Linked DNA regions of Homo sapiens: region 1 is linked to region 2. The links come from fine-mapping of genetic effects on gene expression. Tissue or cell type: blood mononuclear cells. Region 2 holds a variant in brackets; the other region holds the start of a gene. All regions are shown on one strand. Distances are between the middles of the regions.

Region 1 (8,177 bases), 25 kb before region 2:
AGGAAAAAAAGTCTCATTTTCTCCCTCAGAGAGATAACTCATCCTCTGCTCAAGAATTCTGTATTAAATATCACTCAGGTATATGGATCTTTTCCTGATGCCATTTGTTACGAGGATTTCTGCACTAGTGACATTTAATGCTTGCATATTTTCACCTCAACGCTAGAGAGTAGGAGTACGAATGCAGAATTTTAAAACTTAAGAGGTATGTTTTAACATCTCTCCCAGTTTTAAGCAATTAATCTTTGAAGTAACAGCCACAGCTGTATGTCACACCATTGACAGGTTCTCAATAACAACAAAGAAGTAAAAGGCAGTCGGGCATGGTGGCTCACACCTATAAAACCCAGCACTTTGGGATTACAGGTGGGAGGACCCAAGACCAGCCTGGACAACACAGTGGAACCCCACCTGTACAAAAAATTTAGAAATTAGCCAGGCATGGTGATTTACACCTGTAGTCCCAGCTACTCAGGAGGCTGAGGTGAGAGGATCGCTTGAGCCAAGGAGGTGGAAGCTGCAGCGAGCCATGATCACACCACTACACTCCAGCCTGAGGGACAGAGTGGGATCCTGTCTCAAAGAAAAAAAAAAAAAAAAAGAATTCTGCTTCTTCCTTTCTAGGTGAGAAAAGTATCATTCTGCTGTATTAAGGGACCTGTTAGAAGGCAGAAAATAAAAGTTATGCAAACCGTGCACATAATTCCCAAGTGCTGACATGTTCTGCCACATGCAATTATTATGAAGAAATCCACTGTGCTTACCATGCTCATAAGGAGAGAATGTTCCTGCATCAATGTTAATGTAGGGGTCAATTTTGATTGAAGTTACATGTAAACCACATGACTTGAGTATTGTGCCCACACTGCTGGCAATGATTCCTTTTCCAATTCCTGATATAACACCACCAGTAACCAGAATGTACTTCATTTTACTCTTTGACCTGGAAGAAGGAAAAATTACAGATGATATAAATGTATCTCAACAAACCAAACTCATCTGGGTTCAAACACTGGCTCTGCCAATTATTAGCTATGAACCCTCTTGAAGCCTCAGTTTCTCTGTCACAGGACTTCAGAAGGTTCTCGTCAGGTTTAAATAGGATCAAAACAAACATTTCTTGGATCACTGAATGGCTTTAGTCAAATACGTGTAGAAAAACAACTGCTACTCTAATAACACAGCTTTTGTTTAAAGCTTTGACAACTAATAACCTTCAGAGTCAACCTAATAAAACCAGCTCTAAGCTGGCTGATAGAACACTACACCCCAAATGTTTGCTGACATCACTGCCAGACACTGGGATACCAGGCAGGTGCCTCATTATTTTCCCTACATGGGAAAAAAATTCAAACTTGGATAAGTACTCCAGTTCTCCAGGAAATAAATAATGTCTTTGGCTAAACTACAACATATCATCAAGAAAACACAGCTCCTCTAGGTTACAAAAGATAGACTAAAAGGAAAGAACATCAACATTTAAAAGTGGTTGCAGCTAAACCAAAATTCCTTTAATTAAAAGTAGTTCTCTGGCTGGGCATGGTGGCTCATGCCTGTAATCCCAGCACTTTGGGAGGCAGAGCCAGGAGGATCACTTGAGGTCAGGAGTTCGAGACCAGCCTGGCCAATATGGGGAAACCGCATCTCTACTAAAAATACAAAAATTAGCCGGCTGTGATGGCGCACGCCTGTAGTCCCAGTTACTCAGGAGACTGAGGCAGGAGAATCGCTTGAACCCAGGAGACAGAGGTTGCAGTGAGCTGGGATCATGCCACTGCACTCCAGCGTGCGCGACAGAATAAGACTACCTCAAAAAAAAAGAAAAAGTAGTTCTCTTCTATAATTTAACAACAACTTGCTCCTTGTCAGAAATCTCTCCCAGGCATGCAATGAAGAGAGACTGTAAATACTGGGGGAGAGGGACATCAGATAAGAAACCAGTCTGAAGCACATGACGGGCAGAGGACTCAAAGAGAGGGGAGATGAGATTAAATCCAAAAAGCAGTGCCACGGTGGCAGGGAAAGGAGAAATAAGATATAAGGGCAGCAGAGTCAAGATGCAGGTGAAAACAGCATCGACAAGAGGTGAGGAGACCGTGACAGGCTCACCACGGAGGATTTATCACTGGTCCCCAGCTTCAGAGGTCCAGGATCGTCCATTTGGTCAGCAAACCCAAATGTGACCAAAATGAAAAACACAATTAGAAAGTAGCAGAAAATGCTTACTTTGGCATGGTCAGGACATTTTCCTCCTCAGGAACGTTCCATGTGAAGCCAAATTATGATAAAAATAAACTAAGGAACAAGAAAACTAAGGAGTTGTGCTCGAAGCATTCCCCCGCCCCACCCCCTCCCCAGAGCAAGAAAGAACACACTTGGCAGGGAAGGAAGAATGCTCAGAAGTCTTCCCCGCTCCAAAGGCTCTTTGCATCCTCTGCTGCAGCATTTCCAAAAGCATGCTCCCTGGTTTCAACAAAATGCACATGGGATTCTCAAAAAGGGTGTTATGGATATAAATCAGAGAAACGCTGATTAAACCAAGTCATTTAACGCAAGAATCCTGGGAGTGTTTAGCAAGTAAACTCGCACTGTGATCACTGCTATACAGTATGCGGTGTCTCCAAGCTTATCTGACCCTAAGTCTCTCACTTTACAGTTCCTTATTGACACATGAAAATCAGTCTTAGGTACATTTTAGATATGTTCTAACCAGACATATACCTTACTGAGACTATACCCTGGTCTCCCTAAGTTTTGGATGATCCTAGAAATTCCTCTGCCACCGAGTGAGTTACTTCTACAAAAGATTCATCTCATCCAATTACATTTGATTTGTCCCAATTTTACTCTAAGAGTTTAACATCTCTCTTTACGTTCTTTAGTTTCTCTCTTTAGATTCTTGCAGTCTCAGTGCCTGGCAATACATATGCCAGTGTACATAAAGATCAGGCGGGAGGCTCATTCATTCATCCTTATGGGCTACTGACTTACATGACAGCTACTGTGCTTGGGGACTGCAAACATTAATCAGATTTGGGCCCATATCTCAACTTTCTGGCAGTCCAGTTGGAGAGATGAAACATTAACAAATAAATGAGTAATTCAGTGACGGTGGAAGCAGACAGAAAACATGTTTAGACTATAAAGGGGGACGATGAGAGCAGACGCTTTCAGTACCATGGCCATCAGAGGAAGGTGAGACAAGTCCTGGGGGTAGTGGGCGGATCCAGGCGGCTCCTGTTTTGTAGATATGACTTGCAATGGGCCTTGAAGGACTGACTGCACGACTCAGAGCACAGGAAAGGGAACAGGGTGAACAGGCAGGTGCAGGGCAGCTACAGAGAACAGAGGTAAGGCCGTGAGGGGGAAGGCGGGGAAGCAGGGATATACAGTGGAAGATAAACTGGAAAGGTAGGCAAGGGCCAGATCATGTGCAAACTGGCATGCCCAATCTGAACTTAATCCTGAAGGTGACGGAAGGCGCAAGAAGGTTTTCCGGCACAGAAGTAACGTAAATCAAGACGCATCAGAGAAATTCAACAAAGACTGAGGGGGGAAATGCTTTTTCTTTCAATGTTATGAGATGAAGTGCCAGCCCCCATCACTAGTGTGCAGACCTCAATCATGTCACTTGAGCTGCCTGCAACGCGGGTTCTCACCTAGGGGAATGGGGGTGAGAATCTCTGCGCCGCCCGCGTCACAGGGCCGCTGAGGATTCGAAACTGTAACGAGCGTGGACGGAAGGGCGCCACGCAAACGTGGTGAGCTCTATACACCGCCAGCGCCCCGACCCCCGGCCGCCGGGAAGGGAGGAAGCCGTGAGGCCCAAAGGCCAGCCGCGGGGCCCAGGGCCGGCGAGTTCGCAGGCCCCCTCGTCCTACGGCGCGGAGCTGCCGCGCCCAGCCCCGGGCGGCTGAGCCCGCGCCGAGGCCGGAGGCCCGAGGCCCGCACTGCTTGAATGGATGGGCGACTGCCGGGCTTCCTCGCAGACGAAGAGCAAGGGCGGAGGGTGTGGGGGGGGGCGCCGCTCCACTCCCCTACGGCCTTCTCCGTCCGACGAGCCCGGCCGAGCTGATTCGGCGCGGCCCAGCGCGGCAGCGCAGGCCCCGCAGCCTCTGAAGCCGCCCCGCGCCCCGCTTGGCCCCTCTCCCCAGCGCCGCCCGGCCACGAGGCCCGCGCGCGGGAGCCGGCAGCTCGCCGGCCGGGGCGCCCGCCCCACTCCCGTTAGGCACACAGCCCATTGGGCAGGACGCCGAGTCACCTCGCCCCTGATTGGTAGGAGCGACGTCCGTCACCGCGGCGGCGGGGCTATTCGGCGCCGGGCTCAGCTCGCGCCGCTGACTCCTGCGCGGGAGAACAGATCCCCCCCGGGATCCCTGGAGTCAGCCTACCTGCGGCCGGCTTCAGATCCTCCCGTCAGCGACAGAGCTGGGCCGGCGACGCGCGCGGAGCCCCGGACAGCCAGTGAACAACCCCGACCGCATGCGCCCGGCAGTCTTTCACGGAGGCGGGCTCTAGGCTGTGCGCACGCAGAGGTTGGAGGGCGGGCCGGGCCTGGAGGGCGCGGGGCGGGGCGGGGCCTGGAGTGCGCAGGCGCGGGACAGGACCGCTGGGCCGCCTCCGCTGAACTGTGCCGCCGTAGGTTCGAGGCCGGGCGGGTGGTGGCGTGTCTGCCCCTCTGCTTCCGTCCCAGCCTGTGGCCCAAGCTTACTCTCTTGAAGGGGAGGAGGCTGTTTGGGAACTCACGCCTGGCCTATTCGTCACCTGGCCTCGCGTCCTCCCACAGCGGTCTCCTGGAGTTCTGGGCGTCGCCTTCCATCCGATGGTCTTTCACTGTGGGCTCCTGGCGGTGATGCGCCAGCGCATCTCTGCCTCCGGGCGAGGGACGGCGGCAGCGCCACCCTGGCCTCCAAGACGGAAGTGCGGAGGGTCGCGCGGCGTTGGCTCCTCGTCGGCCTCCCTCCTCCCCACACCTGCCCCGAAGGCGGCTGCTTTGGATGGACTAGGATCCCGAAAAGTACGGTTTCATCTAGCTATCGCTCCCTGAGCACCGACTGTGCCACGCACTGTGCTGGGCACCGAGGGACCCTCTCCTCGGACTAACGATGTAGGGAGGCACACTGAGCAGCTCATTACACTTTATGGTTGTTATGGGTGCTTGCTGCAGAGATGCTGGTGCCGGGGCAGTGAGTGCCCAGCGCGGGGACTGACCCAAGTCCGGTGGTGATTGGGAATTCAGGCGGGAAGCCCGCCCTGAAAAAGTAACTTTGAAGCAGAGACCTAAGTAGACGGCAAAGATGGGAAAGGGAGAGGCGGGGATAAGAAAGTGAGACATGCTTGAGCCCAACAGTTCGAGACCAACTTGGGTAACATAGCGAGACCCCGTTTCTTATAAAAATAATAATAGTAGGCCGGGCGCAGTGGCTCACACCTGTAATCCCAACATTTTGGGAGGCCGAGGCAGGCGGATCACAAGGTCAGGAGTTCAAGACCAGCCTCGCCAATATGGTGAAACCCCGTCTCTACTAAAAATACAAAAATTAGCTGGGCGTGGTGGTGGGTGCCTGTAGTCCCAGCTACTCAGGAGGCTGAGGCAGGAGAATAGCTTGAACCTGGGAGGTGGAGGTTGCAGTGAGCCAAGATTGCACCACTGCATTCCAGCCTGGGCGACAGAGCGAGACTCCTTCTCAAAGAATAAATAAATAAAATAAAAATAGTAATAATAATTTTTTTTTAAAAGTGAGGCAGAAGGAAAAGCCTGTGTACAAGCCCAAAGAGGCCGGCACAGCTGAATTGGAAGGCCAGTCTAGCCAAGTCCACAAGGGCCACAGGAAGCGAGATTAACATGAGATTAGGTTGAAGAGTTGGGTAGGGCCATACGGTGAAGAGCATTATAGACCAAGTAAAGGCTTCTCTTTCTCCTAGGGATAGTGGAAAGCTGTAGAAACTTTTGAGAGGCTTTTGACCTTCCTTTGAATAGTGAATATATGTACATGGTTATAATTTTTCCCCAAACACTACACAAGGGTATCCATGAAAAGTAAATCTCTTATTTCTGTACCCCAGTGTTCCTGTTTTGTTCTCTAGAAGCAGTCTGCCACAAGTTCTTAACTATCTTCACTGAAGGAGTTTTAAAAAAAAAGATGTGATGGGATCAGATTTGTGTTTTAGGAAAATCATTGAAGCAGATGGATTCCCAGAAACCAGGTCAGGAGGCTCCTGCAGTGGCCTCTTTTAGAGGCTTCTGGCTCCTTCCAGATCTGGATCACCAGTGCTTCAACCCTGACAACCTGCCCATGCTGCATTCAGCTCCAAATCTAAAAAATGTTTGGAATGCCAGGCATAGTGGCTCACACTTGTGATCCTGACACTTTGGGAGGCTGACACAGGGTGGGAGGATTTCTTGAGTCCAGGAGTTCAAGACCAGCCTAGGCAATATAGTGAGACCCCATCTCTACAAAAAATACAAAAATTAGCTGAGCATGGTGGCACGCATCTGTAGTCCTGGCTACTCCAGAGCCTGAGGCTGGAGGAATGCTTGAACCCAGGAATTCAAGGCCAATGGGAGCTAGGATCCCACCACTGCACTCCAGCCTGGGCAGAGTGAGACTCTATCTCAAAAAAAAAAAAAAAAAGTTTGGGTTGTCTTTGAAGGTACTCTACAGCCACATCTTCTTTCAAGAAGCATTTGATGTTTATCAAAGTGCCTGGAACATAACAGATGCTGAGAACATACTTGCTGAGGTAATGAAGATGCTATGGGAGATGGAAAAATGAGCCATTCACCCAACCACTCCTCTGAATGACCACTTGACATTGTCTTCTTCCTCAAAGCTCTTCCATCTCCTCCCCCATATTCTCCTCAGCTGGTGGTCTTGCTTCCCATTTCACGAGAAAATAGAAGCCATCAGTAGATTTTTCATATCCACCAACCACTTTTATCTGCGCACAAGCTCTGCGTTGTCTCCTGTTACTGTGGACAAACTGCCCACACTCCCAGAGGTCAACCTCCTCTTTGCTCCAAGTGCCATATCCATTTGTCAACTCAAAGAATGTCTAGTATGCAAGTGCCATATCCTTTCATCAACTCAAGAATGTCTAGTAGAATGTCCCTTCCTGCGTCATCAGTCTTTCCCTGTCTAGTAGATCTTTTCCACTACCGTGATGCAAACATGCTGCAATTTGTTCCATCTTAAAACCCCTCTCCTGACTCTATGCCATTCTCTAGCTCCCCCTCCATTTCTGTTTCACTTTTCAGCACAACTCCTAAAAAATGTTGTTTGTACTTTGCTGTCTCAATTTCTTCCCTCTCTTGAACTCATTCCAATCTGGATATTTTGCTCATATAATTTCACTGAAACTGATCTCGTCAAAAATTAACCTCCATGTTCTCAGACCTCTTCTTTGTACATCAGCCTAGACTCCAATCTCTAATGTCCGTAAGTCCCAAATAAAGACAACAGTGGGCTGGGCGCAGTGGCTCATGCCTGTAATCCCAGCACTTCGGGAGCCTGAGATGGGTGGATCACAAGGTCAGGAGTTCGAGACCAGTTTGCAAATATGGTGAAACCCCGTCTCTACTAAAAATACAAAACTTAGCCAGACGTGGTGGCAGGCGCCTGTAGTCCCAGCTACTCAGGAGGCTGAGGCAGGAGAATCACTTGAACCTGGGAGGCGGAGGTTGCAGTGAGCCAAGATTGCACCACTGCACTTCAGCCTGGGCGACGAGCGAGACTCCGTCTCAAAAAAAAAAAAAAATAGACAACAGTGTGGCTGTATGTGCATGGCATGAATGCATATGTGTGTGTGCACGTGCGCATGTGTATGTATTTACATATTTGGGCTGCTTCTCTCCCCCACCATAGGCCCAGTCTCCTTTTGGGCTCCTAGGTGCAGCTATACAGCCCCAGAGCTGCCCCCAAACTGACCACTTCCCTAAGAGCATTTGTCACAGCTGATCATTTCCTCCTTAAAAGGTGGGTGTCCTTTACTTGGCTTCTAGGAAACCACTTGCTGTTCATTTTTTCCTATTTCACAGGTTTCTCCTTCTAGATCTCCCTACCTAGATCCTCTTCCTTTTCCTCTATCCTGAACTATAAACATTGCCCCAAGCCTCAGTTCTAGGATCCCTTCTCTCTAAAGTCATTATCTAGTCATTAAAACCATCTGGCCCAGAC
Region 2 (8,177 bases):
GCAGGCAGACTGAGTCTGAAAAAAGAGTCAGCAAAGAGTGGTGGGATTATCATTAGTTCTTATAAGTTTGGGATAGGCAGTGGAGTTAGGAGCAATTTTTTGTGGTCAGGGGGTGGATCTCACAAAGTATATTCTCAAGGGCGGGGAGAATATTACAAAGTACCTTCTTAAGGGCGGAGGAATATCACAAAGTGCATTAGGAGGATGTGTTGTCATAAAGTCAATCGATCAGTTAGGGTGGGGCAGGAACAGATCACAATGGTGGAATGTCATCTTTTGTGGTTCCTCAGTTGCTTCAGGCCATCTGGATGTATACGTGCAGGTCACAGGGGATATGATGGCTTAGCTTGGGCTCAGAGGCCTGACACCCGGTATCTACTAAAATACAAAAATTAGTCAGGGTGGTGGCGCGCGCCTGCAATCCAAGCTACTCAGGAGGCTGAGGCAGGAGAACTGCTTGAGCCTGGGAGGTGGAGGTTGCAGTGAGCTGAGATGACACCACTGCACTCCAGCCTGGGCGACAGAGCAAGACTCCGTCTCAAAAAGAAAAAAAATGTATTGCTTGAATCTCAGGATTTTTTGGAACGATCTTGTGAAACCTTGATACCTTGTTGTGGTAGCCACCTGCTGCAAACACAGACTCATCCATTGTGGACACAGATCTTAGTCTATTCAAAATGCTCATTTAGGCCAGGCGCAGCAGCTCACACCTGCAATCCCAACACTTTGTGAGGCCGAGGCAGGAGGATTGCTTGAGGCCAGGAGTTTGAAACCAGCCTAGGCAACATAGCAAGACCACATCTCTATGTTATAGATTTTTTTTTTTTTTTGGCTAAAAAAAAAAGTATCAGATTCAAATAGAGACAATTTCAATCCTTCCGCAAGGTGACTTAACTTCTTCACTCATAACCACTAATCTGGCTTTTATCACTGTGGGTTGGATTTGCCTGTTCTAGGACTTTGCACCAATGGAATCATATAGTACATACTCTTTTTTTTTTGGCTTTTTTCTCTCAGTATCATGTTGGAGAAATCCATCTTTGTTGTTGCTTATGGCTAAAGTTTATTTCTTTTTATTGTTAAATAGTATTCCATTGTATGGATATACCACAATTTCTTTATTCATTCACCTGTTGAACATTTGGGCTGTTTCTAGTTTGGGGCTGTAATGAATAAAGCTGCTACACACATGCTTGCACATGTCTTTTTGTGGGCATATGCACCTGTTGCTATTGAATGAATAGTTAGAACTGGAAACATTGGGTCAGAGTAGGTATATGTTAACTTTAGAAACCTTTTTTTTTTTTTGAAACAGGGTCTCATTCCCATTGCCCAGGCTGGAGTGCAGTGGTGCAATCACAGCTCACTGCAGCCCCCACTTTCCAGGCTGAAATGATCTTCCCGCCTCAGCCTCCTGAGGAGCTGGGACTACAGGTGTGCACCACCACACCTGGCTAATTTTTGTATTTTTTGGTGGAGACAGGGTTTCATCATGTTGCCCAGGCTAGTCTCCAGCTCCTAGGCTCAAGTGATCTGCCCACCTCGGCCTCCCAAAGTGCTGGGATTACAGGCGTGAGCCCCCACACCCAGACCATTTTTTCTTTTCTTTTTTTTTTTTTTTTGAGACGGAGTCTCGCTCTTTTGCCCAGGCTGGACTGCAGTGGCGCTATCTTGGCTCACTGCAAGCTCCGCCTCCCGGGTTCACGCCATTCTCCTGCCTCAACCTCCCGAGTAGCTGGGACTACAGGCGCCCGCTACCACGCCCGGCTAATTTTTTTTTGTATTTTTAGTAGAGACGGGGTTTCACCGTATTAGCCAGGATGGTCTCGACCTCCTGACCTCGTGATCCACCCGCCTCGGCCTCCCAAAGTGCTGGGATTACAGGCGTGAGCCACCGCGCCCGGCCCCATTTTTTCATTTTTAAAAGCAAACAATAACTCATCCTGAAATTCCATCAAGAATCAAACTGTAGGCGTCCAGGCGCGGTGGTTCACACCTGTAATCCCAGCACTTTGAGAGGCCGAGGCAGGCAGATCACTTGAGGTCAGAAGTTCGAGACCAGCCTGGTCAACATGGCCAAACTCTGACTCTACTAAAAATACAAAAATTAGCTGGGCATTGTGGTGCATGCCTGTAATTCCAGCTACTTGAGAGGCTGTGGCAGGAGAATCACTTGAACCCGGGAGGTGGAAGCTGCAGTGAGCTGAGATCATGCCACTGCACTCCAGCCTGGGTGACAGAGCCAGACTCCATCTCAAAAAAAATAAAAAAATAAAAAACAAACTGTATTCATTGTTAACATTAAAAATGAACAGACACTCCCCCAATCAAGAAACAGCAATTGAGAAAATTAACAACATAACTCATTTTCTTTTCTTTCTTTCTTTTTTTTTTTTTGAGACAGAGTCTTGCTCTGTTGCCCAGGCTGGAGTGCAGTGGTGTGATCTTGGCTCACTGCAACCTCCACCTCCTGGGTTCAAGCAATTTTCCTGCCTCAGCCTCCTAAGTAGCTGGGACTACATGTGTGTGCTACCATGCCCTGCTAATATTTGTATTTTTAGTAGAGATGTGGTTTCACCGTGTTGGGCAGGCTGGTCTCAAACACCTGACCTCGTGATTTGCCTGCCTCGGCCTCCCAAAGTGCTGGGATTACAGGCGTGCACCACCATGCCCTGCCCAAAATAACTCATTTTCTATAGGGAAACACATAACATTAAATAATAATATCCATACTTTTATGTTAGAAAAATAAGAGAAAATTATTAAGTTAAAGAAAAGCCAATATTTTATATGTACTTGCAAAATAAAGAAGAATTTATCAGTTGCAGCTGATAAACAGATAAACAAATCATGACTAGGATCATAGTCAGACTATTCTGTGGAGTGTGGGACAATGTGGCCATGACAAAGTCTTTCTGGCGGCAAGTGCTTTGAATAAAATCTTAACCACCAAAATAATTATTACCTAATTCAGGAAGTTCATAGAGGAAGCTATCTAACAGTGTTCAAATATGTTTTGGCTCTTGTCAAATTTTGAGTAGTTGAATAGGTCAACATGCTTGTGGCTCATTTATGGCATGCCAGTTAGAAAGCTCAGTCCTAACTAATAGAAATAGGGTTTCCAAGACAAAATATGTTATGTGGTCAAATAATTTTGGAGAATTCCATGCTAAAGTTAAAATGCACATTGCATGCTGCAGGAATTCTCAGAACCCTTAAGATGCCAGTGCCCGCTGTGATTTTTTTTTTTTTTTTTTTTTGGCCTTCAAATGGAAGTGGGCAAGGCACAGAAACATGTAGTTTCACGTAAACACAAATGCACAAAAAACATATAAAAATACTCAACCTCACTCATAACTCATATTCACAATAAAACAAGATAGGCCGGGTGTGGTGGCTTATGCCTGTAATCCCAGCACTTTGGGAGGCCGAGGCGGGTGGTGACACCTGAGGTCAGGAGTTTGAGACCAGCCTGACCAACATGGTGAAACCCCGTCTCTACTGAAAATACAACAATTAGCCGGGCGTGGTGGCGCG[C/T]GCCTGTAATCCCAGCTATTTGAGAGGCTGAGGCAGGAGAATGGCTTGAACCCGGGAGGCGGAGGTTGCAGTGAGCCGAGATCGCGCCATTGCACTCCAGCCGGGGCAACAGAGTGAGACGCCGTCTCAAAACAACAAAAACCGAAAGAAAACAAGATAGGATTTGTCACGTGGAAGATTGGCAAACTGGAAAAAGCTTTATAACGTCCAGCGCATTTGAGTGGGAACAAGTGCTCTCACAGAATGTAGGAGGCTGTGTAGATCTATAACTCTTTGGAGGAAGTATTGGTTAGGGATGATGCCCACTGGCATGTAACAGAAAGCCAGACTTCATCGAATAGGGATTTGTTAACTTTCAAAAAAAGATATTAAGTCTAGAGACAGGCGTCCCAGGCTAGTGCAGCCTCTCTGCAACATCACCAGGGTCTCAGGCCCCTCCACCATGCTTAGTACAAAGCTTTTACTCTCACATTTGCCTCACTGTGACCTCATGGTTACAAGATGACTGCTTTACCCCCAGCCTCGGGTTCACATTCCAGGCAAAAAGAAGGGAGTGGCAAGGAAGAAAATGTGGTGCCTCTATCAGGAAATGAATGCTTTCTTAGGTGCCTCCAGCTGACTTTTATCGACATTTGAGTATGTGGAACTGGCCGCCCCTAGATGCAAGGAGAGCTGTGGATTTTTTAGCTCAGCACATTGCCTATTTGAGTGAAATCAGATATTGATTTACCTGATCTGGCCTCAGCTGACTATCTCTTCTCTTACGATTCTACTCTGACTTCTGTTCTTCTACCTCACTGACTTTCACAGGTACTGTTAGCATTTTACCCAGATCCTTTTAAGATCCCCTTTTCCTTCATGTTGTGTGTGCCCCCAACTTTGCTAAGCTTTTTCTCTTAACATTTAGTACTTAGTACCCAACACCTAGTACCTAGTACCTATGGCTCTTTGGATAGGGCGCTACTGGAGCCCACTTTGCCCAGAGGAAGTGCCTGAGAATTTACTTGAAAAAGCTCCCTGGGATGACCCTAGCCAGATGTTAATGGGAGGAGAGTTTGAAAGTCTCAGCAACCTTGCCTTAGGTTGGAACAAACACTGAGGTGTAACTTATATGCCAGAGCTCCCCTTCCTACCCGACTCTACCTTACCCCACCCCGCCCCACCCCCGTGGGATCAGGGTGAGACTACCTTCCTCCGGATTTCGCATGAAATCACACGCTTGCTTGGCTTCCTCCTCTTCCCTGCCCTGCTTCCCCTACACCCTTGCTGGTTATTCCCCACCCTACCCCTAAGGGAGCACTAATCAATCACTTATACAGGAATCCTCTCAGAGTCTGCTTCCAGATCGCCTGACCTAAAACACCAGCCAACTTGCAGTTTCTAGAGCATGCTAAGCACGTTCCTATCACAGGGACTTTGCACGCTGCAGGAATACCTCCCCCCAGACACATGCACGGTTCACATCTGCACTTTGTTTGTGTCTTTGCTCAAATGCCACCTTATCAGTGAGTATTTTCTTTTTTCCTTTTTTTTTTTAGACGAGTCTCGATTTGTCGCCCAGGCTAGATTGCAGTGACCCTATCTTGGTTCACTGCAACCTCCACCTCCGGGATTCATGTGATTCTCCTGCCTCAGCCTCCTGAGTAGCTGGGATTACAGGTGTGTGCCACCATGCCCAGCTTATTTGTGTATTTTTAGTAGAGAAAGGGTTTCACCATGTTGCCCAGGCTGGTCTCGAACTCTTGACCTCATGATCCACCCGCGTCGGCCTCCCAGAGTGCTGGGATAACAGGTGTGAGCCACTGCGCCCGGCCATCAGTGAGTATTTTCTTAACCACACTGCCTGAAATAGAACCACTCCATCAACTTCTATCCTTTACCCTGCTTAATTTCTCTATGCAATTTAGCACAGCTTGGCTTAACAGTATTTAATACACAGTATTTTGTTTATTGTCATTCTCTCCTACCATAATATAAGCTCAGAGGCCAGGAACTTCGTCTTGTTTTATTCTCCTCTGTATCCCCTGCACTGGAATTGATTAATGCCTGCCAGAAGAAAGGCCTTGTCCGGGTGTGGTGGCTCATGCGTATAATCCCAGCACTTTGGGAGGCCGAGGTAGACGGATCACCTGAGGTCAGGAGTTCGAGACCAGCCTGACCAACATAGAGAAACCCCGTCTCTATTAAAAATACAAAATTAGCCAGGCATGGTGGCACATGCCTGTAATCCCAGCTACTCGGGAGGCTGAGGCAGGAGAATCGCTTGAACCCTGGAGGCAGAGGTTGCAGTGAGCTGAGATCATGCAATTGCACTCCAGCCTGGGCTTGAAACTCCATCAAAAAAAAAAAAAAAAAGAAGAGGCTGGGCGCGGTGGCTCACGCCTGTAATCCCAGCACTTTGGGAGGCCGAGGCAGGTGGATCACGAGGTCAGGAGATCGAGACCATCCTGGCTAACACGGTGAAACCCCGTCTCTACTAAAAATACAAAAAAAAAAAAAAAATTAGCCGGGCGTGGTGGTGGGTGCCTGTAGTCCCAGCTGCTGGGGAGGCTGAGGCAGGAGAATGGCATGAACCCAGGAGGCGGAGCTTGCAGTGAGCCGAGATAGCGCCATTGCACTCCAGCCTGGGCGACAGAGCGAGACTCCGTCTCAAAAAAAAAAAAGAAGAAGAAGAAGAAAGGCCTCAAGTATATTTGCTGGTTGAATAAATGATTGAATATCTAAGGATCTATGCAGACTTAGGTAGTAGACAGTGGGTTTTAGCTTTGAAGAGGGAAAACAGCTTTGTAGATTCCAGCATTTATTGATACACCAAAGCTGAGTCAGGAGCCCGAAGGAGCTCATGGTCTCAAGGAGGACCCAGACCCCACTCCGCAGTGGCCTGTGCACTAGGCTATACAGACACAATGGAAGAAACAATCGCTTCTGCCTGGGAGAATCCAGGAAGGCTTCACAGAAGAGGCCACATTTGACATTAAAAAGGATCAGTTTCTCTGGAGGAGAAGGTGGGGTTGCAGTCCTGTTAGGAATAGCTTGTAAGAAGGCATAAAGTCCATGACCTGCCTGGTGTGGACAAATTAAAGAGTGCCTGAGGAGAGCCACAGGATACTGAAGGACAGAAAGCAACAGAGTCACCAGAGGACAGCCAAGGACCTTGAATGCTGAGGTTTGTCCAGAAGGCAGTGGAGAGCCAAGTGCGGGGCTTAAGCTGGGAGAAGGGCAAAGGCGAGTAGGGTCAGAGCTGGATTTTAGCAAGTTACTCCTGGTGGTGACATGGACGAGGCTGAGAGGGGAAAACCAGGGGCTGGGAGGTCGGTTGGGGTCTGCCTTGATGTCACCTAATTTCAGCTCCAGGTGCAGAGCTGAGATGTTGGCACCAGAGGGCGCTCTGACCCAGAGCACGGGCCTCCTGCCATTCCCGTTCTGCTCCCGCTGGGCACTCACCTGGCGCTCTCGGAGACAGTTCGCACCTCCAGCCGGGGCCCGACCTGTGTGCTCAGCACACAGGCCTTGGGAAATCTTCTACATTACGTCTTGTTATTTGACTTTGTCTTTCCATGTAATGGCTGAGACTGTGAGGTGCTGCTGGAGGTGCAGTGGGGGAACAAATAGGCAAGATCCCTGCTGTCCTAGACCATGTGGTCTAAGCCAGCGGTTCTCAAAGTGTGTTCCCCGGGTCAGGAGGCCTGGCATCTCCTGTGAATGAGCAGACGCACAGATTCTCGGGACCCACTGCAGACCTGCTGAATCAGACACTCTGGGGCCCGTGGCCAGCAATCTCTGTTCTAACAAGCCCCTCTGGTGATTCTGATGGTGTCAAGGGTGAGAGTTGCTGGTCTAAGAAAACACTGCACACTATAGCAAGTTCCTTCAAAGGACTGATCCAGCAAGCTGCGGAAAGGCACTGACTCAAGGGAGCCAAGGGCCAAGCATAGAAGGCTTCCTGGAGGCAGTGTCTAGGAGTCAACTAGATAAAAAAGGGAGAGAAAGTCATTCCAAAAAGACAGAACAGGCTGGGTGCAGTGGCTCACACCTGTAATCCCAGCACTTTGGAAGGCCAAGGTGGGAGGATGGCTTGAACCCAGAAGTTTGAGACCAGACTGGGCAACATGGCAAGTCCCTGACTCTTAAAAAACAAATTTTTTTTTTAATTAGCCTGGCATGGTGGCTGGCGCCTGTGGTCCCAGCTACTCTGGAGGCTAAGTTGGGAGGATTGCTTGAGCTCAGGAAGTTGAGGCTACAGTGAATCATATTCTCGCCACTGCACTCCAACCTGGGCTAACAGAGTGAGATCCTGTCTCAATCAGTTAATCAGTCAGTTCAAAAAGAGAGAACTGTGCCAAGACCCAGAAGTAGGAGAGCTTAGTCTCTTATTGAACTCCAGCTCGAAGGGACCTGACACAAGGGCTCAGCCTTTGTCCCACGAAGTTCGCTCTTGTGACTTCTAAGTATGGTCTCATGTTTTCTTCTCTTTAAATTTTTTTTTTATTGTTTTTAGTTGACCTTAAATACTCTCCTATCCAAGAGGTTTCATGTTTTAAAAGACGTTGTTATCCTGGGCAATCTAGTGAGACCCTGTCTCTATAAAAAACAAAAATTAAAAAAAAAATTAGCTGGGCGTGGTGGCTTGCACCTGTACT

The links. PIP is the estimated chance that this variant, and not a neighbour inherited with it, causes the effect.
Region 1: CTPS1 starts here. The variant in region 2 is fine-mapped to the expression of CTPS1 in blood mononuclear cells (TOPMed, PIP above 0.99).

What each region holds. Positions count from the first base shown.
Region 1 is chr1:40,976,044-40,984,220 of GRCh38, reverse strand. CTPS1 (CTP synthase 1) reads right to left here and starts at 4,525. Exons shown (of 19, transcript NM_001905.4): 1 at 4,392-4,525; 2 at 765-943. The coding sequence starts at 930. RefSeq lists an enhancer at 3,527-3,576 and silencers at 3,777-3,916, 3,987-4,276, 4,547-4,736.
Region 2 is chr1:40,951,410-40,959,586 of GRCh38, reverse strand. No RefSeq gene overlaps it. Among named protein-coding and RNA genes, the nearest start is that of CTPS1, 24 kb to the left of the region's middle. The variant C/T (reference allele first, on the strand shown) is at 3,538.